Regions from separate parts of the Homo sapiens genome. Here regions 1, 2 and 3 are each linked to region 4. Evidence: fine-mapped expression QTL. A gene starts in region 4. Each other region holds a variant in brackets. All regions are shown on one strand. Distances are between the middles of the regions. Region 1 overlaps CCDC171 (coiled-coil domain containing 171). Region 2 overlaps CCDC171 (coiled-coil domain containing 171). Region 3 overlaps CCDC171 (coiled-coil domain containing 171). Region 4 holds the start of CCDC171 (coiled-coil domain containing 171).

What was found.
Region 1: its variant is fine-mapped to the expression of CCDC171 in prefrontal cortex (BrainSeq, PIP 0.95). The same link has a PIP of 0.9 or more in fetal neocortex.
Region 2: its variant is fine-mapped to the expression of CCDC171 in iPS cells (PhLiPS, PIP 0.95).
Region 3: its variant is fine-mapped to the expression of CCDC171 in tibial artery (GTEx, PIP 0.96).

Annotation. Positions count from the first base shown.
Region 1 is chr9:15,746,966-15,754,965 of GRCh38, reverse strand. All of the region lies in intron 18 of CCDC171 (coiled-coil domain containing 171), which reads right to left. Among named protein-coding and RNA genes, the nearest start is that of CCDC171, 200 kb to the right of the region's middle. The variant C/AC (reference allele first, on the strand shown) is at 4,927.
Region 2 is chr9:15,604,563-15,612,562 of GRCh38, reverse strand. All of the region lies in intron 6 of CCDC171 (coiled-coil domain containing 171), which reads right to left. Among named protein-coding and RNA genes, the nearest start is that of CCDC171, 56 kb to the right of the region's middle. The variant T/A (reference allele first, on the strand shown) is at 3,575.
Region 3 is chr9:15,897,235-15,905,234 of GRCh38, reverse strand. The region is part of intron 24 of CCDC171 (coiled-coil domain containing 171); the gene reads right to left. Among named protein-coding and RNA genes, the nearest start is that of CCDC171, 350 kb to the right of the region's middle. The variant C/A (reference allele first, on the strand shown) is at 4,885.
Region 4 is chr9:15,549,552-15,557,819 of GRCh38, reverse strand. It overlaps CCDC171 (coiled-coil domain containing 171), which reads right to left and starts at 4,777. Exons shown (of 26, transcript NM_173550.4): 1 at 4,518-4,777. RefSeq lists enhancers at 4,470-4,639, 4,535-5,180 and silencers at 4,920-5,009, 5,020-5,079.

The DNA.
Region 1 (8,000 bases), 200 kb before region 4:
ATAACATTTAAATTACCTTGAAATTCTAAGATCAACCAATGTATTTTCATTTGACCTTATTTTTTACAAAATCTATTTATTATTCTGTTAATGCAATAAATATTAATAATGACCAATATATGAACTAAGCAAAGCAAGCAAACCAGTAATCAAAGACTCTTCTAAGCACTTTAAAAATGTATTCATTTAGTCTTCTAAATAACTCTATGAGATAGGTAAAACTACTTTCCCCATTTTATATATAAACAAATTGATGCACACAGGATTTAAATAACTTGCCCAAGGTCACACAGCTAGTGTCAGAACCAGTATTCAAAGTCAGGCAGAATTCCTGCTTAACCCTAAAGTATTGCCTCCCCTGTAGAGCAGCTTAGCAATTTTAGGATAGAAGATTAATAATTAGTAGCCTGAAAATGTATAAAGGGGTGTGTGTGTGTATGCGCATGTGTGCTCATTTATGTTATACTCTACATTCACAGTGAGATGAGTAATAAGGTGACAACTATTTTTTTACCACCCACCAACTGCCAGGTATTATACACAATGCTCAAAAAGTATTATCTCACTAAATCCTTGGAACATCCAGGAGGAAGATAATATCTTCATTTATAGGCAAAGAATCTGAGACCCAGTAAAGTTAAATAACGTGCCCAGTTTCACACAACTGATAACTAGATAACTGATAACTACATTTGGATACAAAATCAAATCCGCTTTGTTTAAAGCTAATGCTCTCTCTACCATACAATAATGTTTACCTGTTTAGGTTATTCATATGCTAAATTGGAAACTCCACATGACTATATAAGCTCTTATGGTTTTATATTTATTACTGTCATTATTCTCTCTTCATAACTACTCATACGCTTTAACTTTCTGAAAATATGTTCCCATCCTTTCTGTCAAAATACCTGAAATTTCTACTACAAAAATATAACTTAAAATGAAAACACATGACCCTGGAAAAATATTATATAAACAAACCCCTCATCATGTTTGAAGAAATTATTCTAAAAGCTCAGATGGTCAAGTTATATCCAGAGAGGGTCCACACTGATAATTTTGTGTCAGTCCAATAATATTCCTTTATCTACCTGTATGGACCATATTCCTTCCAATATTCCTCATGACTGTGATACATCAATAATTCTCTTGCTTTAATTAACAATCACTTACTCTTCTCAAAGTCGTGTTTCTTAGCGAACAAACACTTAAAACTTACCCTAAAAAAAAGTTTTCCTGAACCTGCTATTTCCTCTAGCTGTAAGAGGCACAGCCAGATCTAATATCAAAGGCACCTCTGCTCCTAGACTTAGGCAAGCATGTAAAGACACCACCTTCTACTTGATAAATCTTACCTATGCATATCTTTATCAGGGTCTTAATTATTGTGTCAATATTTTAACATTGAAAGTGTTGTAAGGGGCCACTTTTGTAATGTGCTCAGAGGAAATTACTGCCTAGTTTTATAAAACCTCTGTAATTTGACCCCATGCCAATGATACATCTCTCTTCCGATATGAATAATGGAAAATATCCTTTATTAATCACTATCTATAGGCCAGGTCTGCTAGGCACGGATTTTCAATCTCATCCTTTTAATGTCTGTTCCTTCCATTCTATGTTTATTCCCACAACTGCATCTCTGCTTAACCATGCCCTTCATCTGAATGCCATCTCTCCTCTCTAACTTGCCATCATTCTAAGTCTAGCTAAATCACAAGCTCCTCCCTGAAGTCTTCCCTATACTCATAAGCCCACAATGAGCAGCACCTTCTGTAGATTCTTGTAGCATTAAAAGCCTGTATCTCTTCATCTCACCCTTAATTACATTCTGCTTGAAGTCGCTCATGAGTTGTCATTATTGTTCTCTAACAACTGTGCGTATTAGCGTCAGACCAATTCACACATTTTTATTTTATCTCCTAGAATATATACATAACACAGTGACAAGAAAAAATACATTAAATAAATTAATAACATAAACAAGAAGATAGCTTAAGAAACCAATCTACTTTTAAGCGTCATACTTACAAAGAATATTAGTAACATAAATCACCTTTTTCTTTTTTTATATATGTACTTTAAGTTCTGGGGTACATGTACACAATGTGCAGGTTTGTTATATAGGTATATATGAGCCATGTTGGTTTGCTGCACCCATCAATTCATCATTTACATTAGGTATTTCTCCTAATGCTATCCCTCTCCCAGCCCACACCCCCGACAAGCCCTGGTGTGTGATGTTCTCCTCCCTGTGTCCGTGTGTTCTCACTGTTCAACTCCCACTTATGAGTGAGAACATGCGCTGTTTGGTTTTCTGTCCTTGTGATAGTTTGCTGAGAATGATGGTTTCCACCTTCATCCATGACCCTGCAAAGGACATGAACTCATCCTTTTTGTGGCTGCATAGTATTCCATGGTGTACATATGCCACATTTTCTTTATCCAGTCTATTATTGATGGACATTAGGTCGGTTCCAAGTCTTTGCTATGGTGCCGCAATAAACATATGTGTGCATGTGTCTTTATAGTAGCATGATTTACAATCCTTTCAGTATATACCAGTAAGTGGAATTGCTTGGGTCAAATGGTATTTCTAGTTCTAGATCCTTGAGGAATTGCCAAACTGTCTTCTACAATGGTTGAATTTACACTCCCACCAACAGTGTAACAGCGTACCTATTTCTCCACATCCTCTCCAGCATCTGTTGTTTCCTGACTTTTTCATGATCGCCATTCTAACTGGTGTGCGATGGTAACTCGTTGTGGTTTTGATTCGCATTTCTCTGATGACCAGTGATGATGAGCATTTTTTCATGTTTGTTGGTTGTATAAATGTCCTCTTTTGAGAAGTGTCTGTTCATATCCTTTGCCCACTTTTTGATGGGGTTGTTTTTTTCTTGTAAATTTGTTTAAGTTCTTTGTAGATTCTGGATATTAGCCCTTTGTCAGATGGATAAATTGCAAAAATTTTCTCCCATTCGGTAGGTTGCCTGTTCACTCTCATGATAGTTTCTTCTGCTGTGCAGAAGCTCCTCAGTTTAATTAGATTCCATTTGTCTATTTTAGCTTTTGTTGCCATTGCTTTTGGTGTTATAGTCATGAAGTCTTTGCCCATGCCAATGTCCTGAATGGTACTGCCCAGGTTTTCTTCTAGCGTTTTTATGGTTTTAGGTCTTACATTTAAGTCTTTAGTCCATCTTGAGTTAATTTTTGTATAAGGCGTAAGGAAGGGATCCAGTTTCAGCTTTCTACATATGACTAGCCAGTTTTCCCAGCACACTTATTAAATAGGGAATGCTTTCCCCATTGCTTGTTTTTGTCAGGCTTGTCAAAGACCAGATGGTTGTAGATGTGTGGTGTTATTTCTGAGGCCTCTGTTCTGTTGCATTGGTCTATATATCTGTTTTGGTACCAGTACCATGCTGTTTTGATTACTGTTTTGAAGTCAGGCAGCCTGACACCTCCAGCTTTGCTCTTTTTGCTTAGGATTGTCTTGGCTATGCGGGCTCTTCTTGGTTCCGTATGAAATTTAAAGTAGTTTTTTCCAATTCTGTGAAGAAAGTCAGCGGCAGCTTGATGAGGATAGCACTGAATCTATAAATTATTTTGGGCAGTATGGCCATTTTCACGATATTGATTCTTCCTATCCATGAGCATGGAATGTTCTGCCATTTGTGACCTCTTTTATTTCGTTGAGCAGTGGTTTGTAGTTCTCCTTGAAGAGGTCCTTCACATCCCTTGTAAGTTGGATTCCTAGGTATTTTATTCTCTTTGTAGCAACTGGAAGTGCATGGGAGATCACTCATGATTTGGCTCTCTGTTGGACTGTTACTGGTGTATAGGAATGCCTGTGATTTTTGCACATTGATTTTGTATCCTGAGACTTTGCTGAAGTTGCTTATCAGCTTAAGGAGATTTTGGGCTGAGACGATGGGGTTTTCTAAATATACAATCATCTCACCTGCCAACAGAGACCATTTGATTTCCTCTTTTCCTAACTGAATACCCTTTCTTTCTCTTGCCTGATTGTCCTGGCCAGAACTTCCAATACTGTGTTGAATAGGAGTGGTGAGAGAGAGCATCCTTGTCTTGTGCCGTTTTTCAAAGGGAATGCTTCCAGCTTTTGCCCATTCAGTATGATATTGGCTGTGGGTTTGTCATAAACAGCTCTTATTATTATGAGATACGTTCCATCAATACCTAGTTTATTGAGAGTTTTTAGCATGAAGGGCTGTTGAATTTTGTCGAAGGCCTTTTCTGCATCCATTGAGATAATCATGTGGTTTTTGTGGTTGGTTCTGTTTCTGTGATGGATTATGTTTATTAATTTGCACATGTTGAACCAGCCTTGCATTTTTGATGTGCTGCTGGATTCGGTTTGCCAGTATTTTATTGAGGATTTTTGCATCAATGTTCACCAGGGATATTAGCCTAAAATTCTCTTTTTTTGTTGCATTTCTGCCAGGCTTTGGTATCAGGATGATGCTGGCCTCATAAAAGGAGTTAGGGAGGATTCTCTTTTTCTATTGATTGGGTAGTTTCAGAAGGAATGGTACCAGCTCCTCTTTGTACCTCTGGTAGAATTCGGCTGTGAATACATCTGGTCCTGGGCTTTTTTTGGTGAGTAGGCTATTAATTATTGCCTCAATTTCAGAACCTGTTATTGGTCTATTCAGAGATTCGACTTCTTCCTGGTTTAGTCTTGGGAGGGTGTATGTGTCCAGGAATTTATACATTTCTTCTAGATTTTCTAGTTTATTTATGTAGAGGTCTTTATAGCATTCTCTGATGGTAGTCTGTATTTGTATGGGATCAGTGGTGATATCCCCTTTGTCATTTTTTATTGCATCTATTTGATTCTTCTCTCTTTCTTATTAGTCTTGCTAGCAGTCTATTTTGTTGATCTTTTAAAAAAAAAAA[C/AC]AGCTCCTGGATTCACTGATTTTTTTTAAAGGGTTTTTTTGTGTCTCTATCTCCTTCAGTTCTGCTCTGATCATAGTCATTTCTTGTCTTCTGCTAGCTTTTGAATCTGTGTGCTCTTGCTTCTCTAGTTCTTTTAATTGTGATGTTAGGGTGTTGATTTTGATCTTTCCTGCTTTCTCTTGTGGGCATTTAGTACTATAAATTCCCCTCTACACACTGCTTTAAATGTGTCCCAGAGATTCTGGTATGTTGTGTCTTTGTTCTCATTGGTTTCAAAGAACATCTTTATTTCTGCCTTCATTTTGTTATTTACCCAGTAGTCATTCAGGAGCAGGTTGTTCAGTTTCCATGTAGTTGAGCGGTTTAGAGTGAGTTTCTTAATCCTGAGTTCTAGTTTGATTGCAGTGTGGTCTGAGAGACAGTTTGTTGTGATTTCTGTTCTTTTACTTTTGCTGAGGAGTGTTTTACTTCGAATTATGTGGTCAATTTTAGAATAAGTGTGATGTGGTGCTGAGAAGAATGTTTATTCCTTTGATTTGGGGTGGAGAGTTCTGTAGATGTCTATTAGGTCCGCTTGGTCCAGAGCTCAGTTCAAGTCCTGGCTATCCCTGTTAATTTTCTGTCTCGTTGATCTGTCTAATGTTGACAGTGGAGTGTTAAAGTCTCCCATTATTATTGTGTGGGAGTCTAAGTCTCTTTGTAGGTCTCTAAGAACTTGCTTTATGAATCTGGGTGCTCCTGTATTGGGTGCATATATATTTAGGATAGTTAGCTCTTCTTGTTGAATTGATCCCTTTACCATTATGTAATGGCCTTCTTTGTCTCTTTCGATCTTTGTTGGTTTAAAGTCTGTTGTATCAGAGACTAGAATAGCAACACCTGCTTTTTTTTTTTTTGCTTTCCATTTGCTTGGTAGATCTTCCTCCATCCCTTTATTTTGAGCCTATGTGCATCTCTGCGTGTGAGATGGGTCTCCTGAATACAGCACACCAATGGGTCTTGACTCTTTATCCAATTTACCAGTCTGAATCTTTCAACTGGAGCCTTTAGCCCATTTACATTTAAGGTTAATATTGTTATATGTGAATTTGATCCTGTCATTATGATGTTAGCTGGTTATTTTGCCCGTTACTTGATGCAGTTTCTTCATAGCATCTTAACAATTTGGCATGTTTTTGCAGTGGCTGGTACCAGTTGTTCCTTTCCATGTTTAGTGCTTCCTTCAGGAGCTCTTGTAAGGCAGGCCTGGTGGTGACAAAATCTCTCAGCATTTGCTTGTCTGTAAAGGATTTTATTTCTCCTTCACTTAAGAAGCATAGTTTGGCTGGATATGAAATTCTGAGTTGAAAATTCTTTTCTTTAAGAATGTTGAATATTGGCCCCCCACTCTCTTCTGGCTGTAGGGTTTCTGCTAAGAGATCCGCTGTTAGTCTGATGGGCTTCCCTTTGTGGGTAACCCGACCTTTCTCTCTGGCTGTCCTTAACATTTTTTCCTTCATTTCAACTTTGGTGAATCTATCGATTATGTGTCTTGGGGTTGCTCATCTCGAGGAATATCTTTGTGGTGTTCTCTGTACTTCCTGAAATTGAATGTTGGCCTGCCTTGCTATGTTTGGGAAGTTCTCCTCGATAATATCCTGAAAAGCGTTTTCTAACTTGGTTCCACTCTCCTCGTCACTTTCAGATACACCAATCAAACACAGATTTGGTCTTTTCACATAATCCCCTATTTCTTGGAGGCTTTGTTCATTTTTTTTACTCCTTTTTCTCTAATCTTGTCTTCTCGTTTTATTTCATTAGTTTGATCTTCAATCACGGATATACTTTCTTCCGCTTGATCAAATCTGCTGCTGAAGCTTGTGTATGCTTCATGAATTTCTCATGCTGTGTTTTTCAGCTGCATCAGAAAATTGAGGCCCAGAGAGGTTAAGTCACTTGCTCAGAGTAATGCATTTGAAGCCTGGCAGCTTCAACATGATGGTCATTTATGTTCTTCTCTACACTGGTTATTCTAGTTAGTCACTCGTCTAACCTTTTTTCAAGGTTTTTAGCTTCCTTGCAGTGGGTTAGAACATGCTCCTTTAGCTCGGAGAAGTTTGTTATTACTCATCTTCTGAAGCCTACTTCTGTCAACTCGTCAAAGTCATTCTCAGTCTAATTTTGTTCCCTTGCTGGTGAGGAGTTGTGATCCTTTAGAGGAGAAGATGTGTTCTGGTTTTTGGAATTTGCAGCCTTTCTGCTCTGGTTTCTCCCCATTTTGTGGTTTTATCTATCTTTGGTCTTTGATGTTGGTGACTTACAGATGAGGTTTTGGTGTGGATGTCCTTTTTGTTGATGTTGATGCTATTCCTTTCTGTCTGTTAGTTTTCCTTCTAACAGGCTCCTCAGCTGCAGATCTGTTGGAGTTTGCTGGACGTCCAGTCCAGACCCTGTGTGCCTAGGTATCACCAGCGGAGGCTGCAAAACAGCAAGTATTGCTGCCTGATCCTTCCTCTGGAAGCTTCGTCCCAGAGGGGCACCTGCCAGATGCCAGCCAGAGCTCTCCTGTAAGAGGTGTCTGTTGGCCCCTACTGGGAGGTGTCTCCCAGTCAGGCTACACGAGGGTCAGGGACCCACTTGAGGATGCAGTCTGCCCGTTATTCGAGCTTGAACACCATGCTGGGAGAACCACTGCTCTCTTCAGAGCTGTCAGGCAGGGGAATGTTTAAGTCTGCAGAAGCTGTGCCCACAGCTGCCCCTTCCCCCAGGGGCTCTGTCCCAGGAAGATGAGGGTTTTATCTATAAGTCCCTGAATGAGGCTGCTGCCTTTTGATCAGATATGCCCCATCCACAGAGCTGGAATCTAGAGAAGCAGTCAGCCTTGCTGAGCTGCGGTAGGCTCCGCCCAGTTTGAGCTTCCCGGCAACTTGGTTTACACTGTGAGCATAAAACCACCTACTCAAGCCTTGGCAATGGCAGACGCCCTCCCCCCGCCAAGCTCCAGCATCCCAGGTCATTCTCAGACTGCTGCACTAGCAGCAAGGATTTCAAGCCAATGGATTTTAGCTTGCTGGGCTCTGTGGGCATGGGACCCG
Region 2 (8,000 bases), 55 kb before region 4:
AACCAGAATTCAAATATGAGATGAAAAGTGAGACTGCAGTTCTATCAGAAGATCATAAGTTAAAAAGAACACCAAGAGGGGACCACTAAACAGATATGATTAAACATAGCTAATCATCTCTCCTAAAACACCACTTAAATGAAAGTAAAAAATAAAAACAAATGGCAGAAACAATGAATGGTGGAGAAAATGATAGCCAACAAAAGATGTCAGGAGCAAATTTGGAAGACAGAAAGCAAACTGACAAGTGATAATGACTTAGGTTTCAGCTTTTTCATCTTTTCTAAATGCGGAAAAAAAGAGAAGCCTAGTAGCAAGCTGATTTACAGCCACAAAAGCTCAGAATTTGGAGGCACAATGTCTTAGTCCATCCAGCCTGCCATAACAAGATATACCATAAACTAGGCAGTTTATAAAAAACAGAAATGTATTTCTCACAGTTCTGGAAGATGGGAAATACAAGATCAAGGTGTTGGCAGATTCAATGTCTGGCAAGAGCCTACTTTCTAGTTTATAGAGGATGCTTTCTATCTGTGTCCTAACATGGTGGAAGGCAAGAACTCTGGTTCTTCAGTCCCTTATAAAGGCACCAATTCTACTTAAGGTTTCCACCATCAAGACCTAATAATCTCCTGAAGACCCCACCTCCTAATACCATCACAATGGCAATTAGGTTTCAACATACAAATTTAGGAGGGACACAAACATCCAGACCCTAGCAAAACAGCTAACCTTGAAGCCAAGCTATATAGTAAAAATGAATACAGGAGCATTGTTGGAAGCCTCTATAACCAGTACTTTACACTCTCGGGTTGCCTCTGCCAGCTCCCTCCCTGAAAAATCCCCCTCCATATCCTGGTAAAAGGAAGGAGTTTACAAACTAGAGGTTGATCAAAAGAGGTTCTGACGATATGAAAAGCAAACACAACTGGGGGTTGGGGTAAGACACCTTATTAAAAATAAGGAGATTAAGCAACATCTGCATAGTGGGCAGTTAGACCTCACAGCGCCCTGAGCACTGACTCCTACACTCATAGCAATATAAGGAGGAGACGGAAAGATTTCTTTCTAGGGAAACTACCAGGCCAAGAAAAAAGACATCGTAAGGTTCCCTAATTCAATGCAAGGGCTCCACATCCAAAGAGCTTCTTCTCATCTTTTTAGTGCCTCATTCTTAAATATAAACACACAGTCTAGAATCACCGGACATTTGCGGAAAGGTTCTTGTATTAGGCTGTTCCTGCATGGCTATAAAGAAATATGTGAGAATGGGTAATTTATAAAGAAAAGAGGTTTAATAGGCTAACAGTTCTGCAGGCTGTACAGGAAGCATGATGCTGGCATCACTTGGCTTCTGGGGAGGCCTCAGGAAATTTACAATCATGGTAGAAGGTGAAGGGGGAGCAGGCACGTCACATGGCCAGATCAGGAGCAGGAGGAAGGAGGCGCTACACACTTTTAAATGACCAGATCTCGTGGAGCTCATTCACTACTATGAGGATAGTACCAAGAGGAATGGTGCTAAACCATTCATGAGAAATCTGCCCCCATGATCTCCTCCCACCAGGCCCTATTTCCAACACTGGTGATTACATTTCAATATGAGATTTGGGCAGAGACACACATCCAAAATATATCACTTCTCATGTGAAACTCAGAGGCTACTACAAAATGAAGCCAAACACTCAGAGAAAATAAAGACCAGGCCGGGCACAGTGGTTCACACCTGTAATCCCAGGATTTTGGGAGGCCAAGGCGGGATGACCACTTGAGTCCAGGAGTTCAAGACCAGACTGGGCAACACAGTGAGACCCTGTGTCTACAAAGAACAGAAAAAATTAGCCAGGTATGGTCGTGCACACCTGTAGTCCCAGGTATTCGAGAGGCTGAGGTGGGAAGATGGCTTGGGACCAGGAGGTTTTTGTTTTTTTTTTTAGACAGAGTTTCACTCTTGTCACCCAGGCTGGAGTGTAATGGCACCAGCTCGGTTCACTGCAACCTCCGCCTCCCAGGTTCAAGTGATTCTCCTGCCTCAGCCTCCCGAAGTAGCTGGAATTACAGGCACCCACCACCACGCCCAGTTTTTTTTTTTTTTTTTTTTTTTTTTTTTTTTTTTTTAGTTGAGATGGGGTTTCACCATGTTGGCCAGGCTGGTCTTGAACTCCTGATCTCAGGTGATCCACCCGCCTTGGCCTCCCAAAGTGCTGGGATTACAGGCATGAGCCATCGCGCCCAGCCGAGCCCAGGAGGTTTAAGCTGCAGTGAGCCATGATCGAGCCACTGCATTTCCAGCCTTTGCAGCAGAGCAAGATCCAGTCTCAAAAACAAGAAGAAAGAAAAGAAAAGAAGACAAGACCATCAAGGGAGGGGTGGGGGGAGAAACACCTTCAAAATAAGTATGACTTATATCCTCAAAGAGTTAAATTAAGACATTACAAACATGAAACAAGGAGAATATACTAAGAAAGGTATCATCAAATAACAAGAATGAGCTTAGAAATTAAAAACCCAAAAGATGAAATAAAATGTAATAGAAAGGCTGCAATATAAAATTGAGAAAATCTCTCAGAAAATAAGAGTAAAAATATAAAAAGATGGAAAATAGAAGAGATAAGCATTATAAGGATGTCAACTTTATGTCAAAATGATCTATAAATGCAATCCAATTTTAATCAAAATTACAGGAAGGTCTCTTGATGGAATACAATAAGCCATTCCTGAAACTCACATAGGGAAGTAAAAAGCCAAGAATAACCCCTCCCTCACCCCTAAAAAATATTAAGAATAAAGACAGAGGAAAGTTCTCTACCAGATATCAAGACTTATTCTAAAGGTATAATGAATAAAGCAATTTAGTACTGATGCAGAAACAAACATGTAAGTGAAACAGAACAGAGTACCCAAGAACAAAATCTTAGATATAAAAGAACTTGATGTATGATGGAAATGACACTATAAATCAATATGCGGTAAAAGAACAGACAATTGAATAACTAGTACAGGGACACTTGGCTATCTATTTGGAAAAACAAAATTAGATCCCATCTCATGCTATATACGCATTATCTTTATGACTTTGGGTTATCTAAGACAAAACAATCACAACTATAAAAAAATATACTGATAAATTCAACTACATTAAAATTTAAAACTAGGCCAAGTGCGGTGGTTCACGCCTGTAATCCCAGCACTTTGGGAGGCCAAGGCGGGTGGATCACCTGAGGTCAGGAGTTCAAGACCAGCCTGGCCAACATGGTGAAACCCCGTCTCTACTAAAAATAAAAAAAAATAAAAAATTAGCTGGGCATGGTGGCAGGCACCTGTAATCCCAGCTACTCGGGAGGCTGAGGCAGGAGAATCGCTTGAACCCGGGAGGCGGAGGTTGCAGTGAGCCAAGATCACACCACTGCACTCCAGCCTAGATGACAGAGCGAGACTCCGTGTCCAAAAAAAAAAAAAATTTTAAACTGTTCATCATACATAATGTAAATTGCCTCTCTGTCTCTACAAAGAAGAAAAAGATGTTTGCAAAAGGAATATACATAACCAAGGGTTAGTTACTAAATATATTTTT[T/A]AAAAAAAAACCACTCTTTTTTTTTTTTTTTTTTTTTTTTTTTTGAGACAGGGTCTTGCTCTGTAGCCCGGGCTGTGATCATAGGACAATGCAGCCTTGACCTCCCAGGCAAAAGCAATCCTCTCACCTCAGCCTCCCTAGTAGCCAGGATCACAGGTATATGCCACTACGCCTGGCTAATATATATACTTTTTTTTTTTTTTCATAGAGAGAGTGTCTCTGTTGCCCAGGCTGGTCTCGAACTCCTGGGCTCAAGCAATTCTCCCACCTCAGACTCCTAAAATGCTAGGATTACAGGCAGGAGCCACCACCCCCAGCCAAAAGTTCCTATTAATCAATAAAAATATACCCAAAAATCCAAAAGAAAAAAGGCAAAAAATATAAGCTGGCACTTCACAAAAAAGAAATGTGAATGGCCAATAAACGTAACATGGTCAATGTCAAGGAAGTGGAAATTTAAGCAAGAATGAGATACAATTTCACACATATCCTATTTCAAAAGAAATTAAATCTGAAAAATACCAAGAGGCTGTAAAGGAAGAGAAACTCTTCTTTGAAATTGTTACACCCACTTAAGAGAACAATTTGGCACATATTTTATACGCACTAAATACATACCCACATAAAAAGATGTGATGTTCATGGAATCACTGTCTGTAATAATTTAAACTTGCAAAGAACTTAAATCTCAATGTCAGTGTTATGGTTTGAATGTGTGTCCCTTCCAAAACTCATGTTGAAATGTAATCCCCCATGTGACAGTTTTGAGAAGTGGGGCCTTTAAGAGAGGACTGGGTCATGACAGCTCTGCCCTTGTGAATGGGTTAATCCAATCATGGATTAATGGGTTAATGGGTTATCATGGCAGTAGAACTGGTGGCTTTACAAGAAGAGAAAGAGAGACCTGAGCTGGCACACTCAGCCCACCAGCATGCAATGCCCTGTGCAGCCTTGGACCTCTGCAGAGTTCCCATCAGCAAGAAGGCCATCGTCAGATGCAGTCCCTTGACATTAGATGTCTCAGCCTCCAGAACTGCAAGAATAAATTCTTTTTCTTTATAAATTAACCAGCTTCATATATTCTGTTATAAACAACAGAAAATGGACAAGGCAGTCAGGTAATGAGTAAATTATGGCACACGCACAAGATAAAATATTATACAGCAGTTAAACTGAATGAACAGAAGCTATTTTATTAACTTTAACAAACCTCAAAAATACAAGCAGGCCAGGCATGGTGGCTCACACTTGCAATACCAGCACTTTGATAGGCCAAGGCGGGTGGATCACTGGAGCTCAGGAGTTCAAGAATAGATTGGCCAACATGGCGAAACCCCGTCTCTACTAAAAAATGCAAAAATTAGCCAGGTGTGGTGACACGTGCCTGTGGTCTCAGCTACTCAGGAGGCTGAGGTGGGAGGATTGCTTGAGCCCAGGAGGCAGAGGTTGCAGTGAACCAAGATCGCGCCACTGCACTCCAGCCTGGGTGACAGAGTGAGACCCTGTCTAAAAGAAAAAAAAAAGTGAAAAATATAAGTTTGACAAAGAAGCATCCTGTATGATATTCTAATATATATCCTAAAACAAAAATACTAAAATAATACAATATACTGTCAATGTATACAGACAGAAAATTAAACACCAACTTCAGAATGGCAGTTATTCTTTTGGGGCTGAAGTTGTGGCAGGATGGGGAAGTGACTCAGAATTGTCTTCAATGATATAACAATTTACTGTTTGTTTCCAGTTCCAGTAAACATAACACACACTAACATGATCTAGGTAGCATTTGTTACATTAATGGTATTGCTGGGTTATATTGGGCATTGAGTATATATAAATCCCTGGGGGGGTTGTATGTTCAAATATTTGCTTTAAGTTTATGGCTTTATCAATATCATCCAATCCTGAGATGCAATGTAACACTCAAGAAAATCCAAAAAAACTACAAAAATACCTCATGCAATTTACAGAAAAACTTGCCTTCATCCCAAATAAATGTAACTTTAAAATTTTTGTTACAGAACATATTTTCCAATCACACCAAAAGCTACCTGCATCTTTATTATGTGTGTCTGTGTGTGTGAAATAAAATCATATTAAGGACACTGGAAATTGAGGGAAGTTCTTCTTTTTTCCACTAGAGGGGGCTGTTGAACTTAAAATATTTTAAAATGAGGCTTGTTTTTGAACTGACATTTAATATCACAGGAAACTACATTTGGCTGTTAGAAAATAAACTTGCTTTCTTTCCACATCTTCCAGAAACGTAGCCCAAAAAGTATAATTCTTTATATATACTCATATAAACAACATTTCTCAGAATCCAAAATACAGTTCCGTTCCAATTCTGAAGAATTACACTAGTTAGAAAAGTATCAGAGTTAAATGTACTCCTCTTTTCTAGCTTATAAAATATATCAATATAGCTAACTACAACCTTAATCTATTACATTATTATCTCCTGAAAGACCCAGAACAAGTTCCTCCTCTCTAAGTCCCCAAGGCTAGCAAAGTTCTACAATTACAAAGTGTTTGTTGCTATAGAGCATAAACTGGTGCTTTGTATAACATTTATCATAATTGTGAATCCATAAGCTTGAAAATGAAACAATTATATTTCTAGGCATTTACACGAAGAATCATTTGTATGACTGCTCAAAGATATGGACAAGAATGTTAGTGAATCATTAATTAGAGCTAAAAATTTTGAAAGAAATAAAATGTGCATCAATAAGAGATTACTGAAATACAATATTCCCTCTTATCTGCGGTTTCATCTTCCCTTTCAGTTACCCTGAGTCAACCTAGGTCCAAAAATAAGTGAATACAGTACAATAAGATATTTAGAGTGGGAGAAAGACCACATTCACATTACTTTTATTATAGTATCTTGTTATGATGGTTCTATTATTAGTTACATCGTTAATCTCTTACTGCGCCTAATTTATAAATTAAACGTTATCATAGGTATGTGTGTGTATAGAAAAAAACACAGCATATCTGCAGTTTCAGGCATCCACTGGTGTCATGTAACATATGCCCCACAGGTAAGGGAAAGGCTACAGTATGTTAGGAAAATCCACATGACAGAATGCCATGCAAATACTAAAAGAATAAGGTATGAACATCAAAAGATGGAGGCAAAATATTATTGAGGTGTATCATTTTATTTATGTAAAAACGTAATGCTTCTATATCCTGACATGAGGAGCGAAATCAGAGGTGAAAGGGGCAAGACCCTTACTTTCTTGCTTTTAAATTTCCCTAAATTAGGGACTTTTTTTTTTCTTTTTTTTTTTTTGACAGAGTCTCGCTCTGTCGCCCAGGCTGGAGTGCAGTGGTGCGACCTTGGCTCACTGCAACCTCCACCTCCTGGGTTCAAGCGATTCTCCTGCCTCAGCCTCCTGAGTAGCTGGGATTACAGGTGCGTGCCACTACTCCCGGCTAATTTTTTTTTTTTTTTTTTTTTTAGTAGAGACAGGGTTTCACAGTGTTGGCCAGGATGGTCTCAATCTCCTGACCTCATGATCTGCCCGCCTCAGCCTCCCAAAGTGCTGGGATTACAAGCATGAGCCACTCTGCCCGGCCAAATTAGGGGCATTTTTATAACAAAGTTATCAGTGTCAGAGTCCTTTTCTATGCCATTTGTTAATAGGATACCAGTACATAGTTTTCCAGAAGAAAAGAAATGCTCCTTGCTGCCCTTGATTATTTAAGGTAAACTTCCTTAAGGTGTTTACCTGTCATACATGTCAACATATGTTAATGTGTTACATAAATAAAATTATAAGCCAGGTGTGGTGGCTCACTCCTGTAATCTCAATACTTTGGGAGACTGAGGCAGAAGGATCACTTGAGCCCAGGAATTCAAGACCAGCCTAGGCAACAAAGGAAGACCCCCATCTCTACAAAAATTTTAAAAATTAACCAGGCTTCGTGGCACATGCTTATGGTCCCAGATACAAAGGAGGCTGAGGTAGGCAAAGGCTGCAGTGAGCTGTGATAGTCCCGCTGCACTCCAACATGGGCAACAGAGTGAGACCTTGTCTCAAAAATATAAAATAATAAAACAAAATAAAATTATATTCCTAATATTTTGCATCCATCTGTTGATGTTCATATCTTATTTCTGTGTGTATTTGCATACTATTCTGTTACGTGGATATTCCTAAAAACACTTTCTTTTCACGTAACTTCCTCCGAGTTGTCACTACATCACAATCATACTTACTGGGTCAGCTTTTGATATGTTGCACCCCAATCCCTGGATTGTCTTAAGGCCTATCAGACCATGCCTACTAAGGGTGGTCTGATAACTTTCTTCACTGCCTCCCTACTCTTCCTCCTCTTTCTATAGTTCATGGAATTATTTTCAAGCTACACTTCCCATACCGTCACAAACTCCCCCATGCTTCAATCACTA
Region 3 (8,000 bases), 350 kb before region 4:
TGGTGCTGAGAAGAATGTATATTCTGTTGATTTGGGGTGGAGAGTTCTGTAGATGTCTATTAGGTCTGCTTGGTGCAGAGCTGAGTTCAATTCCTGGATATCTTTGTTAACTTTCTGTCTCGTTGATCTGTCTAATGTTGACAGTGGGGTGTTAAAGTCTCCCATTATTATTGTGTGGGAGTCTAAGTCTCTTTGTAGGTCTCTAAGGACTTGCTTTATGAATCTGAGTGCTCCTGTATTGGGTGCATATATATTTAGGATAGTTAGCTCTTCTTGTTGAATTGATCCCTTTACCATTATGTAATGGCCTTCTTTGTCTCTTTTGATCTTTGTTGGTTTAAAGTCTGTTTTATCAGAGACTAGGATTGCAACCCCTGCCTTTTTTTGTTTTCCATTTGCTTGGTAGATCTTCCTCCATCCTTTTATTTTGAGCCTATGTGTGTCTCTGCACGTGAGATGGCTTTCCTGAATACAGCACACTGATGGGTCTTGACTCTTTATCCAATTTGCCAGTCTGTGTCTTTTAATTGGAGCATTTAGCCCATTTACATTTAAGGTTAATATTGTTATGTGTGAATTTGATCCTGACATTATGATGTTAGCTGGTTATTTTGCTCGTTAGTTGATGCAGTTTTTCCTAGCCTCGATGGTCTTTACAATTTGGCATGTTTTTGCAGTGGCTGGTACTGGTTGTCCCTTTCCATGTTTAGTGCTTCCTTCAGGAGCTCTTTTAGGGCAGGCCTGGTGGTGACAAAATCTCTCAGCATTTGCTTGTGTGTAAAGGATTTTATTTCTCCTTCACTTATGAAGCTTAGTTTGGCTGGATAAGAAATTCTGGGTTGAAAATTCTTTTAAGAATGTTGAATATTAGCCCCCACTGTCTTCTGGCTTGTAGAGTTTCTGCCGAGAGATCCACTGTTAGTCTGATGGGCTTCCCTTTGTGGGCAACCCGACCTTTCTCTCTGGCTGCCCTTAACATTTTTTCCTTCATTTCAACTTTGGTGAATCTGACAATTATGTGTCTTGGAGTTGCTCTTCTCGAGGAGTATCTTTGTGGCATTCTCTATATTTCCTGAATTTGAATGTTGGCCTGTCTTGCTAGATTGGGGAGGTTCTCCTGTATAATATCCTGAAGAGTGTTTTCCAACTTGGTTCCATTCTGCCCGTCACTTTCAGGTACACCAATCAGATGTAGATTTGGTCTTTTCACATAGTCCCATATTTCTTGGAGGCTTTGTTTGTTTCTTTTCATTCTGTTTTCTCTAAACTTCTCTTCTCACTTCATTTCATTCATTTGATCTTCCATCACTGATACCCTTTCTTCCAGTTGATCAAATCGGCTACTGAGGCTTATGCATTCGTCACGTACCTCTCGTGCCATGGTTTTCAGCTCCATAAGGTCCATTAAGGACTCCTCTGCATTGGTTATTCTAGTTAGCATTCGTCTAATCTTTTGTCAAGGTTTTTAACTTCTTTGCCATGGGTTCGAACTTCCTCCTTTAGCTCGGAGTAGTTTGATCGTCTGAAGCCTTCTTCTCTCAACTTGTCAAAGTCATTCTCCATCCAGCTTTCTTCCGTTGCTGGTGAGGAGCCGAGTTCCTTTGGAGGAGGAGAGGCACTCTGATTTTTAGAGTTTCCAGTTTTTCTGCTCTGTTTTTCGCCATCTTTGTGGTTTTATCTACCTTTGGTCTTTGATGATGGTGACGTACAGATGGGGTTTTGGTGTGGATGTCCTTTCTGTTAGTTTTCCTTCTAACAGTCAGGACCCTCAGCTGAAGGTCTGTTGGAGTTTGCTGGAGGTCTACTCCAGATCCTGTTTGCCTGGGTATCAGCAGTGGAGGCTGCAGAACAGCGGATATTGGTGAACAGCAAAGGTTGCCGCCTGATCATTCCTCTGGAAGTTTTGTCTCAGAGGAGTACCCGGCCATGTGAGGTGTCAGTCTGCCCCTACTAGGGGGGTGCCTCCCAGTTAGGCTACTCGGGGGTCAGGGACCCACTTGAGGAGGCAGTCTGTCCGTTCTCAGATCTCAAACTCCGTGCTGGGAGAAGCACTACTCTCTTCAAAGCTGTCAGACAGGGACATTTAAGTCTGCAGAGGATTCTGCTGCCTTTTGTTTGGCAATGCTCAACCCCCAGAGGTGGAGTCTACAGAGGCAGGCACGCTTCCTTGAGCTGCGGTGGGCTCCACCCAGTTCGAGCTTCCCGGCTGCTTTGTTTACCTACTCTAGCCTAGGCAATGGCGAGCGCCCCTCCCCCAGCTCGCTGCCGCCTTGCAGTTTGATCTCAGACTGCTGTGCTTGCAATGAGTGAGGCTCCGTGGGTGTAGGACCCTCTGAGCCAGGCACAGGATATAATCTCCTGGTGTGCCATTTGCTAAGACTGTTGGAAAAGTGCAGTATTAGGGTGGGAGTGACCCAATTTTCCAGGTGCCGTCCGTCACCCCTTTCTTTGACTAGGAAAGGGAATTCCCTGACCCCTTGTGCTTCCCAGGTGAGGTGATGCCTTGCCCTGCTTCAGCTCATGCTCGGTGCGCTGCACCCACTGTCCTGCACCCACTTTCCAACACTCGCCAGTGAGATGAACCCGGTACCTCAGTTGGAAATGCAGAAATCACCTATCTTCTGCATTGCTCATGCTGGGAGCTGTAGACTGGAGCTGTTCCTATTCAGCCATCTTGGCTCCACCTCAGTTATTTCTTTATAGCAATGCAAGAATGCCCTAATACAGTTGTGTTTACTAAATCAGGGAATTCATGTTTCAATACTACCTATCAATCAAACAAAAGTTGTAATTTAAATTTTGCCTAGAAAATTTCCAACTTCCCTGAATTAATCAATTATTCTTTAACAAAAACCTTTTATATTAAATACTTTCTACATTCGTAACAAAAGTTCAAAAGACACTGTGGCTAGAAAATTACATTTCTGAAATTTTTATGTGTGTGTGTGTGTGTATATATATATATATATATACATATATATATATATATGAATTTTATAGCTTTGTATCATTTTGAGAAAAAAAGTCCATAATTCTGGAAATATTTCCAAACAACTATTTTACAATGTTTTCTCTGCAAAACTCAGAGCAGTTAGTTTTTATTTTTTTACAAATGTCACTTTACCTTGAAGTGACAGAGTATGTGTTTAATATCTTCTAGCTAGAATGTTTCTGTTAGCCACTTGCCATCAAAGAAAAGTTCTACAGATTTGTAACCCTCATCTTTTTTGAAAGAAAATTGCATAATTCTTACACAAGTTCAAGAGTACTTTGAAGCATGCTGTCACAACAGTGAACTTTACAGAGAAGATTTTAAAGTCTCTCATCTCATTATAAACTATTATAAAGACTGTACTATGTAAAATAATTTAATATATAGATTCACTTAACAGTTACATACATATTTTCATGTTGAAACACAAAAGTAAATAAATGAGTAATGATGCCACTTTCAGCCCCTCTACATTGCAAAAGCCTTCCACTCTTCCTTGAACGTACCTTACAGGACACATTAATGTTTAACAAATAGACCAAGTGAAGACATCAGTGCCAAACTATAGTAAAGAATACATATGTTATTTCTTACTTTATAAATAAGGTATAATTTATTATCTTGTATAATTAATGGCATGTATTTATAGTCAACAAAGTGAGTTAAAATAAAAAAAATTATAGGATGTCCACAGATAGATTTTATGGTATATTTACTTTTTAAATAGACTATTTTTAGAGCAATTTTAGGTTCACAGAAAAGTTGAGCATGAAGTACAGAGAGTTCCCATACATGCTCTGCCCCTATACACATAAACCCTCTTTCATATCAATACCCTCCTACAAAGTGGTACATTTATTGCAACAAAAATGAACCTATGCTGACACATCACTATCACCCAAAATCCACAGTTTACATTACGGCTATTGGTGTTGGACATTCTATGGGTTTTACAAATGTATAGTGACATGTATTCACTATTATTAGTATCACACAAAATAGACTCACTGCTCTAAAAATCCTGTGTTCTGCAGATTCATCCCTCGCTCCCCTCTAACTCCTGGCAACCACTGATCTTTTTCATTTTCTCAATAGTTTTTATAATTACTTTTTAATGTTTCTCTTAAAACCTTTAAAAATCATACCTTTAAAATTTTCTTTTTCTATGTTATGGAGCATATTTAATAACAACACATATATAAGTTATTAAGGAATGAATGTATATATGTTAGGGAAGCTGACTTAAAAATAAGAGTGTGCTATGAAAAAGTTTGGAGACTACTCCCCTGTGGCATCAGGTGACTAACTGTAGATGTACACTGGAAGCAACTGAGCTAGTTGACTCTTCCCGTACTTAGGGCTGTGCAGGGTGGCAGCAGCTGGGTTTGTCCCCAGAAACAAAAACCATGAGTAAGGACCCTAGAATCAGGAAAGCAGAGCAGAGCCTAAGGAAGCTTCCAAACCCAGAAGACAGTCTATCTATTCACTGTGTCTCACAGCATGTATGTCCTACTTCTTTCCCTCACACCCAGATGTAAGCTCCAATAATCAAAATCTACATCTACAAAGAAGCATAAAAGCAGCACCTCACTCTAGGGTATTGAAATCTGTATTGCATGCTGCATAACAAATTACCAGAAACTTAAAGGCTTAGAACAACACAAATTTATTATCTCTTAATTTCCATGGGCCAGGAGTCCAGCATAGGTTAGTGGGGTCCTCTGCTCGGGTGTCTCAGCAGGCTGAAATCAAGGTATCATCTGGAGCTGTGATCTCACCTGAGAAGCAGAGTCCTCTTGCAAGCTCATTCAAGTTGGCAGAATTCACTTACTTGCCATTGTGAAAAAGAAGTCCCCATTTTCTTGCTGGCTGTCACCCAGGATCACTCTCTG[C/A]CCCTAAAGGGCATACTCAGCTCCTTGCCAAATGCCCCCACCGCCCTCTTTCAACATGGCTGTTTGCTTTCCTCCAGTCCCTCAGAAGAACATCTCTCAGACACCTTGGCTTCTTGAAAGGAGTCACCTGATTAGGTCAGGCCCATCCAGGACAATCTCTTTTGATGAGTAACCTAATCACAGGAGTGGTATCCATTACATTTACTGGTATCACCCACCATCGAGGGGAGAAGACTAATTTTATAGCAGATGTACAACATGGGAAAGGACAAAGGGGTCATCTTAGAATTCTGATTACTGCAGCCTGAAACACTCCTTATACCAAAACTAACTCAAAATTGATCATAGATTTAAATATAAAACATAAAGCTATGAAACTTTTAGAAGAAAATATATGAAAAAATCTTTGGGATCTCGAGCTTGGTAAAGAGTTCTTAGACACAAAATCAAAAGTGTGATCAATGAAAGAAAAAAACAATAAACTGAACTTCATCAGAAACTATTCATTAAAAATTATTGCCATGAAAAAAAATTCTGTCACAAAGAGTAAATGACAGAGAAAAAATATTTGCAAACCACACATCTGATAGTTTCTAGAATATATAAACAACTCTCAAAACTCAACAGTAAAAAGACAATTCAATTAGAAAATGAGCAAAAGGCACTAAGATACATTTTACGAAAGAGAATATACAAATCGCAAATTTTATCAAAAGAGAATATACAAATAGCAAACAGGCACATAAAGATATTTTCAAAAATCACTAAGCACTAGGGAAATGCAAACTTAAAACCATAGTAAGATATCACTACACCTATCAGAATGGCTAACAGAAAAAAAGTGGGATAACACCAAGTGCTGGCGAGGAAGCAGAGAAACTGGATCTCTTAAAGATTCATAGTGAGAATGAAAAAAATGGCAGTCATTCTGGAAACAGTTTGACAGTTTTTTAAAAATTAAATGTAACTTACATATAGCTAGGCAATCACATTCCTCAGTACTTATCCTAGAAAAATGAAAACTTGTGCCCAAACAGAAACTTGCATAAAAATGTTCAATGCAACTTTATATGTAATAGCCGAAATCCAGAAACAACAAAATATCCTTCAGTGAATGAATGGCTAAACAAACTGTGATACATCCATACCACGAAAACAAGTCACCAATAAACTATTAATCAATATTGACAAATAAAGGAATAAACTATTGATATATGCAAAAACTTGGATGGATCTCAAGAGCATTACACTGAGTGAAAAAGCCAACTCAAAAAGTCACATTCTGTATGACTGCATTTATATTACATTATTGAAATGACAAACTTATAGAAATGGAAACTATTTAGTGGCTGCTATGAGTTAGGGATGATGGCAGGACAGGGGGTGATATGTCCATAAACTGGTTACTTGAGAGAGAATTTTGTTGGTACCTTTCTGTATCTTGATTGTGGTAGTGTCTATACAAATATACACATGAAAAAATGTCACAAAACTGTATTTACCCATTGTACTAATGCCAATTTTCTGGTTTTGACATTTTCCTAAACTGATGTAAGATATAACAATGGGGAAAGCTGGATAAAGCGTACACAGGGACCTCCCTGTGCTATTTTTGTACTTTTCTGTGAATCTATAATTATTTCAAAATAAAAGGGTAAAAAAGCAAATATATAGCATTCTAATATTTAAAAGGGAAGATATACAAATTTATAGACATGTCTATATTTATTTTAGAAACAAATAAACAAGAAGAGAATAAAACATTAAAATTTTGTTTAAATGATACTGATTTAGCGGGCAAAGGCATGGACTAGACCAACCAGTCTTCTGCACATAACTTCTTATGCAGATACTTGAATAAAACGACCTAGCATTTTGCTCATCACACTCAACATGAGAGATTATCAGATACTAGTCTATATTTGCTCACTGACTGTGATAGCAACACCAGCTATTCTGAGACCCTCTGCAGCCTGTTGCCTCAAAAGAGTCAATGTAATCTGAGGGGTATATGCACTCAGCTCAATTCTCCACTCAAAGGCAAACCCATGTAAGCCCCAAAGGAGGTGAACCCCACACTCTACAATCAGGAATTGCCAAATAAGTTAGAATGTATGGAAGTAAATAAAGCCTATGCTCTTACCAAATCTTTGCTCAAAGGTTTTCCAGCTTCCTCTGTAGTTCCCATGTTCCAGGGTTTGCCTGGACCCTGGTTATAACAACAGCTACTGCAGGCCAGACACCATGTTATAAGCTTTGCGTATTTTTTCTAATTCTGACAATAATCCTGTAGGTGTATTGGTGTTACACCAGGATTATAGCTGCCTTCCAATAATGCTGTAAGACTCATATTATCTTTATAGACTAAGAAACTGTGGTTCAGTGATGCTAAGTACCTTGTCCAGTGTCACCCAGTTAATAAAGAGCAGAATTGGGATTCAAATCCATGCCTGTCCAATTCCAAAGCCCATGTTCACTCAATGTGTTCCAAGTTTCCTGGTTTGATTTGGACTGGTTGATGTTTGTTTATTTGTTTCTCAGTGAAATCAGTAGACTTAATCCAGGCTTTCCAAGTTTCATAAAGTGCACAGCTAACTTATTACAACATTCATATAACAACAATTGAATCCATATTCTCTCTTTTATTGATCCATGTTCTCTCCTTTATTAACTGAAAAAGATACAAAGCAAACCCCTTTTGAATTTTGCTATGACACCAGGATTTTCAAAGATCTCACAATCATTAATAAGTATTACTCTGCATTGACTCTGAGCTACAGATTTTTGTTTATGTAAATAAATATTTCAAATAAAAGAACTTCAAATGATATTTTCTTGGGAACTTCATTCATTCTGTAGTTGTTCAATAAACATTTGTAACAAAATAATGAATCTCTATTCTATCAAAGCATGCCATATAACTTCCACACTTCCATCAAAACATCTTTTGATGCTAAAAACATACATAATTTGGAAGAAGACTTAGATTTTTTTAATGGGAAAAAATTAAGCTTAGAAATTATAGCAAATCATCTATTATCCACACAATAGATGACTTGGAAAAAAGGAAAACAACTTCTGGTATACTCGATTAACTTATACATGTAAAATGATAA
Region 4 (8,268 bases):
AACTGGCACAAGACAGGGATGCCCCCTCTCACCACTCCTATTCAACATAGTGTTGGAACTTCTGGCCAGGGCAATCAGGCAGGAGAAAGAAATAAAGGGTATTCAATGAGGAAAAGAGGAAGTCAAATTGTCCTTGTTTGCAGGTGACATGATTGTATATTTAGAAAACCCCATCGTCTCAGCACAAAATCTCCTTAAGCTGATAAGCAACTTCAGCAAAGTCTCAGGATACAAAATCAATGTGCAAAAATCACAAGCATTCTTATACACCAATAACAGACAGAAAGCCAAATCATGAGTGAATTCCCATTCCCAATTGCTACAAAGAGAGTAAAATACCTAGGAATCCAACTTACAAAGGAAGTGAAGGACCTCTTCAAGGAGAACTACAAACCACTGCTCAACAAAATAAAAGAGGACACAAACAAATGGAAGAACATTCCATGCTCATGGATAGGAAGAATTAATATTGTGAAAATGGCCATACTCCCCAAGGTAATTTATAGATTCAGTGCCATCCCCATCAAGCTACCAATGACTTTCTTCACAGAATTGGAAAAAACTACTTTAAAATTCATATGGAACCAAAAAAGAGCCCACATTGCCAAGACAATCCTAAGCAAAAAGAACAAAGCTGGAGGCATCACACTACCTGACTTCAAACTATACTACAAGGCTACAGTCACCAAAACAGCATGGTACTGGTAACAAAACAGATATATAGACCAATGGAACAGAATAGAGCCCTCAGAAATAATACCACACATCTACAACCATCTGATCTTTGACAAACCTGACAAAAACAAGCAATGGGGAAAGGATTCCCTATTTAATAAATGGTGTTGGGAAAACTGGCTAGCCATATGCAGAAAGCTGAAACTGGAACCCTTCCTTATACCTTACACAAAAATTAAGTCAAGATGGATTAACGACTTAAATGTTAGACCTAAAACCATAAAAACCCTAGAAGAAAATCTAGGCAATACCATTCAGGACATAGGCATGGGCAAGGACTTCATGACTAAAACACCAAAAGCAATGGCAACAAAAGCCAAAATTGACAAATGAGATCTAATTAAACTAAAGAGCTTCTGCACAGCAAAAGAAACTACCATCAGAGTGAACAGGCAACCTACAGAATGGGAGAAAATTTTTACAATCTACCCATCTGACAAAGGGCTAATATCCAGAATCTACAAAGAACTTAAACAAATTTACAAGAAAAAATCAAACAACCCCATCAAAAAGTGGGCAAAGGATATGAACAGACATTTCTCAAAAGAATATATTTATGCAGCCAACAGACACATGAAAAAATACTCATCATCACTGGCCATCAGAGAAATGCAAATCAAAACCACAATGAGATACCATCTCACACCAGTTAGAATGGCGATCATTAAAAAGTCAGGAAACAACAGGTGCTAGAGAGGATGTGGAGAAATAGGAACACTTTTACACCGTTGGTGGGACTGTAAACTAGTTCAACCATTGTGGAAGACAGTATGGCGACTCCTCAAGGATCTAGAACTAGAAATACCATTTGACCCAGCCATCCCATCACTGGCAGCCAGAGAGAAAGGTCAGGTTACCCACAAAGGGAAGCCCATCAGACTAACAGCGGACCTCTCGGCAGAAACTGTAAATCATGCTGCTATAAAGACACATGCACACATATGTTTATTGCGGCACCATTCACCATAGCAAACACTTGGAACCAACCCAAATGTCCATCAATGATAGACTGGATTAAGAAAATGTGGCACATATACACCATGGAATACTATGTAGCCATAAAAAAGGATGAGTTCATGTCCTTTGTAGGGAGATGGATAAAGCTAGAAACCATCATTCTGAGCAAAATATCGCAAGGACAGAAAACCAAACACCGCATGTTCTCACTCTTAGGTAGGAATTGAACAACGAGAATACTTGGACACAGGGTGGGGAACATCACACACCGGGGCCTGGCAGAGAGTGGGGGAAGGTGGGAGGTATAGCATTAGGAGATATACTTAATGTAAATGACGAGTTAACAGGTGCAGCACACCAACATGGCACATGTATGCATATGTAACAAACCTGCACATTGTGCACATGTACTCTATAACTTAAAGTATAATAATAAAAGAAATAAAAATAGATACTCAGTCACTTGACTAAAGTCACATCTCTCACATCTCTAGTGACAGGGTCAGGATTTACACCCAAGTTAGCTGACTCCAGAGCTCTGCTGTGTGCCTTGCTATTGGCCCTCAAGACACAGTTCATCCCAGTCAGGGAAGCATGTAAGACCTCACTTATCAGGGAAGCATTTCTGCTCTTTGCTGGAGATTTCTTAAAAATATCATTTTTCCCCGTATCGAAACTGACAAGCCATGGCCTTCTCAACAAAAGATTACTCAGACCTTCAGTCGATTCTCAATCCAGATAGCACCTTCACAGTTCTGGACCAAAACCAGGCCATCCTGTAGCAGTAATAGATAAAGAAAGGCAAGGTTCAAATTAGCTTTTTATGTTAATGTATTAATAGATTAATCTTTTTTTGATAGTGGAGTTGAACTAATCTCACCATTCCTACTAAAATAGATGATGGGATATTATGTGTATCATTCATCAATGAGAAGCATTTTTAAAAATAGATAAAAGGGTAATTGAGGCCAAGGGATCAGTGATCCCGACATCCTGAGAGGAGGTGCCAGCCAGAAAGGCGAATCTACTTTAGATTTCGGAGCCACTACTGGTAAAAAATTTTTCTACCTTACATCTGAGTCCTTCAGTTGGTCATCCCAAATGCACTCATCTTTCAGTGTGTCTGCACAGATCAGAGGAAAAACGAGGGATGGGTGGATGAAAAAATAGAAATTCCTATTATTGAGCCACTTACTATATGCCAGATACTGAGATCAGCATTCCTGATCTCATTTAATCCCAACATCTCTATGAGATTATGCACATTTCACAGATAAGAAAACTGAGGCTTGGAGATGTTGAATAATTTGTGTAAAAATATTCAGCCGGAAAATGAGAATTCAAATCCACATCTGGCTAAGTCCATCCTCTTTCACTACGCAGTGCTGTCTTCATTAGTAACCACACCTGTGTTGGAAGTGTTTCTCAGCATAGGTACATAATCAACCTTTAAAGGGGAAGTTTGGTTCTTACATCAAAACAAGACCAAGACCAAGGGACTGAGACAACCAAAACGTTTTAGAATCAAATGAGACTTTAGAGACTAAGTCCTTCCTCCTTATCTGACAGATAAAGAACCTAACGCCTAGGAAGGTTAGGTGGTTTGCCTGTGGGGACGCAGCTCATAAATGGCTGAGCCCCAAGACTAACACAGAAAGCTACAAACTAAGACTATGCCCTTCATCTTTCCTCTTAGCAGGTTGCACTGCCTTTGTTTCCTCTGCATTTTATGAAAAACCATGTTCATCTTCTGCTCTACCACTGTTTTGTTGAGAGTAGGAACTAACAGTTAAATAAAATAAGTGACATGCCGGGCGCAGTGGCTCACGCCTGTAATCCCAGCACTTTGGGAGGCCGAGGCGGGCGGATCACGATGTCAGGAGATCGAGACCATCCTGGCTAACACAGTGAAACCCCGTCTCCACTAAAAATACAAAAAAATTAGCCGGGCGTGGCGGCGTGCGCCGGTTGTCCCGGCTGCTGGGGAGGCTGAGACAGGAGAATGGCGTGAACCCGGGAGGCGGAGCTTGCAGTGAGCCGAGATCGCGCCACTGCACTCCAGCCTGGGTGACAGAGCAAGACTCCATCTCAAAAAAAAAAAAAAGTGACAAAATCGTATGTTCTTTTCTCCAATATTATGAAAACCATAAAACATCGGTATGTCATGTATTCAAAAGAGCTGGACACCAACTCTAATAAACAAAATAAAGACGTATTTATCTCATTTACCTAAAATGTATACATGAAATATGTATTTTCTTAGGATCAATATCATAATGGAATAAAAAAATTCAAAAAGTCGGCTCCATTTCTGCAGAAAATTTACAGCTTCGGGAAAACGCACAGCTGACTCAGATTCTAAGTCTCTCAGAGTCCTGGAGGGTAGGTAGAAGCTGCAGGTGACAGTCTAGCACAACTCATTCCCGTTTATCAAACATCTGTAGAGTGTCTAGTGTGTGGCCGGCATTTAAAAAGGGGAGAGCGGGCTGAAAGACGTGGTCCCTATCCTCGAGGGGCTTACTGATTCTCGGGAACGAAAGCGCTCCGCAGCAGTAACCCTAAGAAGCTCCAAATCCCGGTCCTCTGCCTCCCCTCTGGTCCCCATCCGGCGCTCTGGTACAGCCTCAGCGATCTCTGGCTAGGATGCTCCACGGAGATCTTCCTCCAGGTGGGCGGGGAGACCCAGCCCAGGGAGCTGGAGGCGTGCCCCAAAGCCTACGCCAACAGCCCCAGGGCCGCCCCAAACTCACTCAGGGGCCCCTACAACCCTCTCAACACCTCCCTCCCAAGTCGTCCGCCTCGAAGCCCCCACACCGTGCGGTTACCTCAGGGGTCTCGCGTGATCCGTGCTGCACACCCAAGACCCCAGGGGCCGCTCCAAGTCTCACGGGTGAAAGGAGGCCCAGGCAGCCCACGGGAATAAGAGCAAAAACTGTTGGAACACGACGGACTCCAGGACCCGGGAGGAGGGGGACAAACAGCAAAGGGGTACAGAAGGGGAAGAGCCCCCGGGAGGTGAAGTTTACAACTGCCACTTCCGGAGCTGAAAACACTCCGCTTCTCTCGCAGACCTTCCCAGACTTTCACAGGTCAGCCCAACTCAGGCCCGGCCCCACTTTTTCCTCCCGCCTCCCGCAGCCCTCAGCTTGCAGCTCCTGGATACGTACTCCGAGAACGCTGGCTCGGATTGGAAGAGCCCGCCCGCCAAGCAGCGCGCCTTCGCTGAGGGACGAACGGGCGCATGCGCCGTTGCTGGGGAGCGGCGGGCTCGCGACCGCACGCGCTCTCGCTCCAGGAGCTCCGCGTCCCCGCGCGGGGGTGCGCCCTGCCCACGCGCTGCTGTGGCTTTTCAGCGTGAGGTGTCCGCGTTCCTGTCTCAGTCGCCAGAGCCGAGTGGAAATGCAGATTTCCAGCTTCTAACCCCTTTTCCCTGCCTGCTGAATAAAAACCTAAGAGGTCGGATCCCAGATCCTGCTTTTTGAAACTGGTTCTTCTGCCCATCTTTAGAGCCACAGCAACGGTGGGCTGGTCCCGGGGCCTGGGGAGAAATTCTCTGGGCTCGGGTTCTGCCCAACTGCCTGGTTTACCTCTGTCTGGACAGCTCTCTGCCTGCACAGGGCATCCTGTCCCCTCTTCCCGTCCCCATTGTATCCCAGCTGGGAGTGGTGAGCAGGGTCGGAAGAATGCATTGATGCTGCTTGCAGTGCGTTTCATTATCAACATTACGTAACCAGGCACATCGTGGAAAACGCCTCGGAGCCTTAGCATGTGTGTTCCCTATCTCTTTCCTCGCTTCTCTCACTTTTCTCTGACACACACACACACACACACACACACACACACACACACACACACACCGTCCTCTTATTGATAATTTATACTTTGGTTCCTCCCGGTGGCTGCTTCACAATCTGCTGCCGCCTAAGGGAGACTGGAAAACCAACTCCTCTTTTGTTCCTTAACTTTTGAAAGCCTATTCTTCCAGAGAACAATGCAAATTGACAGGATTTGGTCAAAGATTTTTATCTTCACCACCACCACCTCCTCTGCACAAAAAGGTGTTTAATGCAAAACGAGCCTTCTATACTAAACTGGGTCCTTGTTGATTGTAATCAACCTGAAACCAGGTGTAGGGGCCGTCTTTTCTCTCTCCCATGGGAGAGCCAACGGTCATAAATGCAAACACAAATTGAGATTAAAACCTCCTTGATTCTTGTAGCACTGAAACCTTAATTGGTTTGATTTTAGTCATTTACATCTAAAACGGAGGCCTGTCCCTGATTCTTTTTACTAGAGCCATAAAGAGGACAATTGCTCCAGAGGAAATAAAGGGAAAAAATAGCCCACTCTAAAGTTTAGAAATGAAATGGAAAATTACAACTGACTAATGAGATTAGAACTTTTATGTTACAAGCTTTAAAAAATATTTTTAAATTTTATTTTTTTCTTTTTCTTTTTTTTTTTTTTTTTTTTGAAACAGGGTTGTTCTCTGTTGCCCAGGCTAGAGTACAGCGGCACAATCACGCCTCGCTGCAGCCTAGACCTTCAGGACTCAAGCCATCCTCCTGCCTCAGCCTCCTGAGTAGCTGGAACTACTTAAAATTTCATTTGTGTTGGCCGGGCGCGGTGGCTCACGTCTGTAATCCCAGCACTTTGGGAGGCCGAGGTGGGCGGATCATGAGGTCAGGGGACCGAGACCATCCTGGCTGACACGGTGAAACCCTGTCTCTACTAAAAATACAAAAAAAATTAGCTGGGCGTGGTGGCGGGCGCCTGTAGTCCCAGCTACTCGGGAGGCTGAGGCAGGAGAATGGCGTGAACCCGGGTGGTGGAGCTTGCAGTGAGCCGAGATTGCGTCACTGCACTCCAGCCTGGGCGACAGAGCGCGACTCCGTCTCAAAAAAAAAAAAAAAAAAATTATTTGTGTTTTAACAAAGTCACAAAAGTGAATATTGTATCGCAAGAATAAATGCTATGTACTATATTGTATGTTTTTGAAATGAAAAATGGATGTGATGTGAAGACCCGTTTTCATTTATTTGTTCATTCAGCATTTACAGAATACAGACTATGTACCCAACATGGAGCTAGATGATAGAAATACAGGGGAATATTGATATCAACCCTGAGCTCCCAGAAATGATTCATAGAAAAGAACTTTGAGCTTAGTTTAAGAAGACCGTTAAAGATTTATGAAGCTAACAAGGAACTAGAAGGAAGACACGGAAGCTGCAAACACCAGCATAAGAACCAGCACCAGACATTTGAAAAGCTGGAAAAAGCTGTCTGTGCAAAGGAGGTGTGAGCGATGAGGCTAGAGAAATATGCAGAACCCAGATCACAGAGGAATTTCTACATCATACTTAGGAGTTTATCAAGCAATGAAGCTAATGAAGGGTTTTAAGCAGAAAAAATATAAAAATTACACAATAAATCAGACCATTTCAAAATGCGTGGAGATTCTCTGTTGTCTTTTATTTGCTTAACATGCTACTACTACTTGAAAAAAGCTATATAAAGAGATGTTCTCCTACCCGCTTATCTTTTGGCCTCAACATCACTTCATTTCTCTCTCTTCTTTCTACCAATCCTTTTGAGATATGATTAGATTCATTCATTCACACCACTCTACCAATAGCTTCCAAAGTCAGTAGTGACCTCATTGCCAAATCTGAGACCCCTTGACTTTGCTGACACATGTTGATCCTCAGATGCCTCTCCAGCAAAGGTGAGACTCTATACTCCATTGTTTCTCCAACTCTCTGAACTTTCTGCTGCTGCTCAGGAAACCATTCTTCCCTTCCTGCCCCTCAAAGTGATATTTTCTCAGTTTCTGCCCTCAACCTTCCCATCGTTTGTACCAGATAAGCGTCCTCAGTGATGTCATCCATTCCTGCAAGTATGAACTCCATATCCCCAATATTCAACTCTTTATATCCATCTCTGACCTCTCCTGAGCTCTAGTTTTGAATTTTTAACCCCGGTTTGAACAGTGCCACTCTAATTTCTGGAAATACTTAATTTAATATAACTAAATTTTAATTATCTTTCTAACTTCTTGTGGGAATCCTCTAAACTACTCTCCCACCTGTTTATAAAACTTCTAATCTCCTAGACACCCAGGCAAGAAAAACCCTAAAAATTTTGTTTGCGTCTTTCTCTCTCAAACTCTCACTTCCTGCATGCAGGATTCCTACTTTTTCTCTAAACCTCATGTCTTCTTTCTGTGCCTACTTAGTACTAAGCAACTTCATTTGTCTGTTTCCTTATTGCTTCCTATTGAGACACTCATAATTAGGACCTTCCTTGTGGCCCAATGCAAGTCACTCACCTTCCCCTTCTGTGCAAATTCTTGACATTTTTAGAAGTTGACCATTAACATCTAGGGCATTTTTAAACTGGCATATATAAGAAGAGAGGATCAAAAAAATAGAAAAAAATCAAAAGCAGGTCTAAGAACACCTGTATCTTTATGAAACTAGGGGAGTGTAATAAACTGATTGTACGTATGTGAGCCTCAGAGTTTTAAAGCACCAGATGAACCACATTCTTTTGACCCTTCTGTAACCTCCCCTA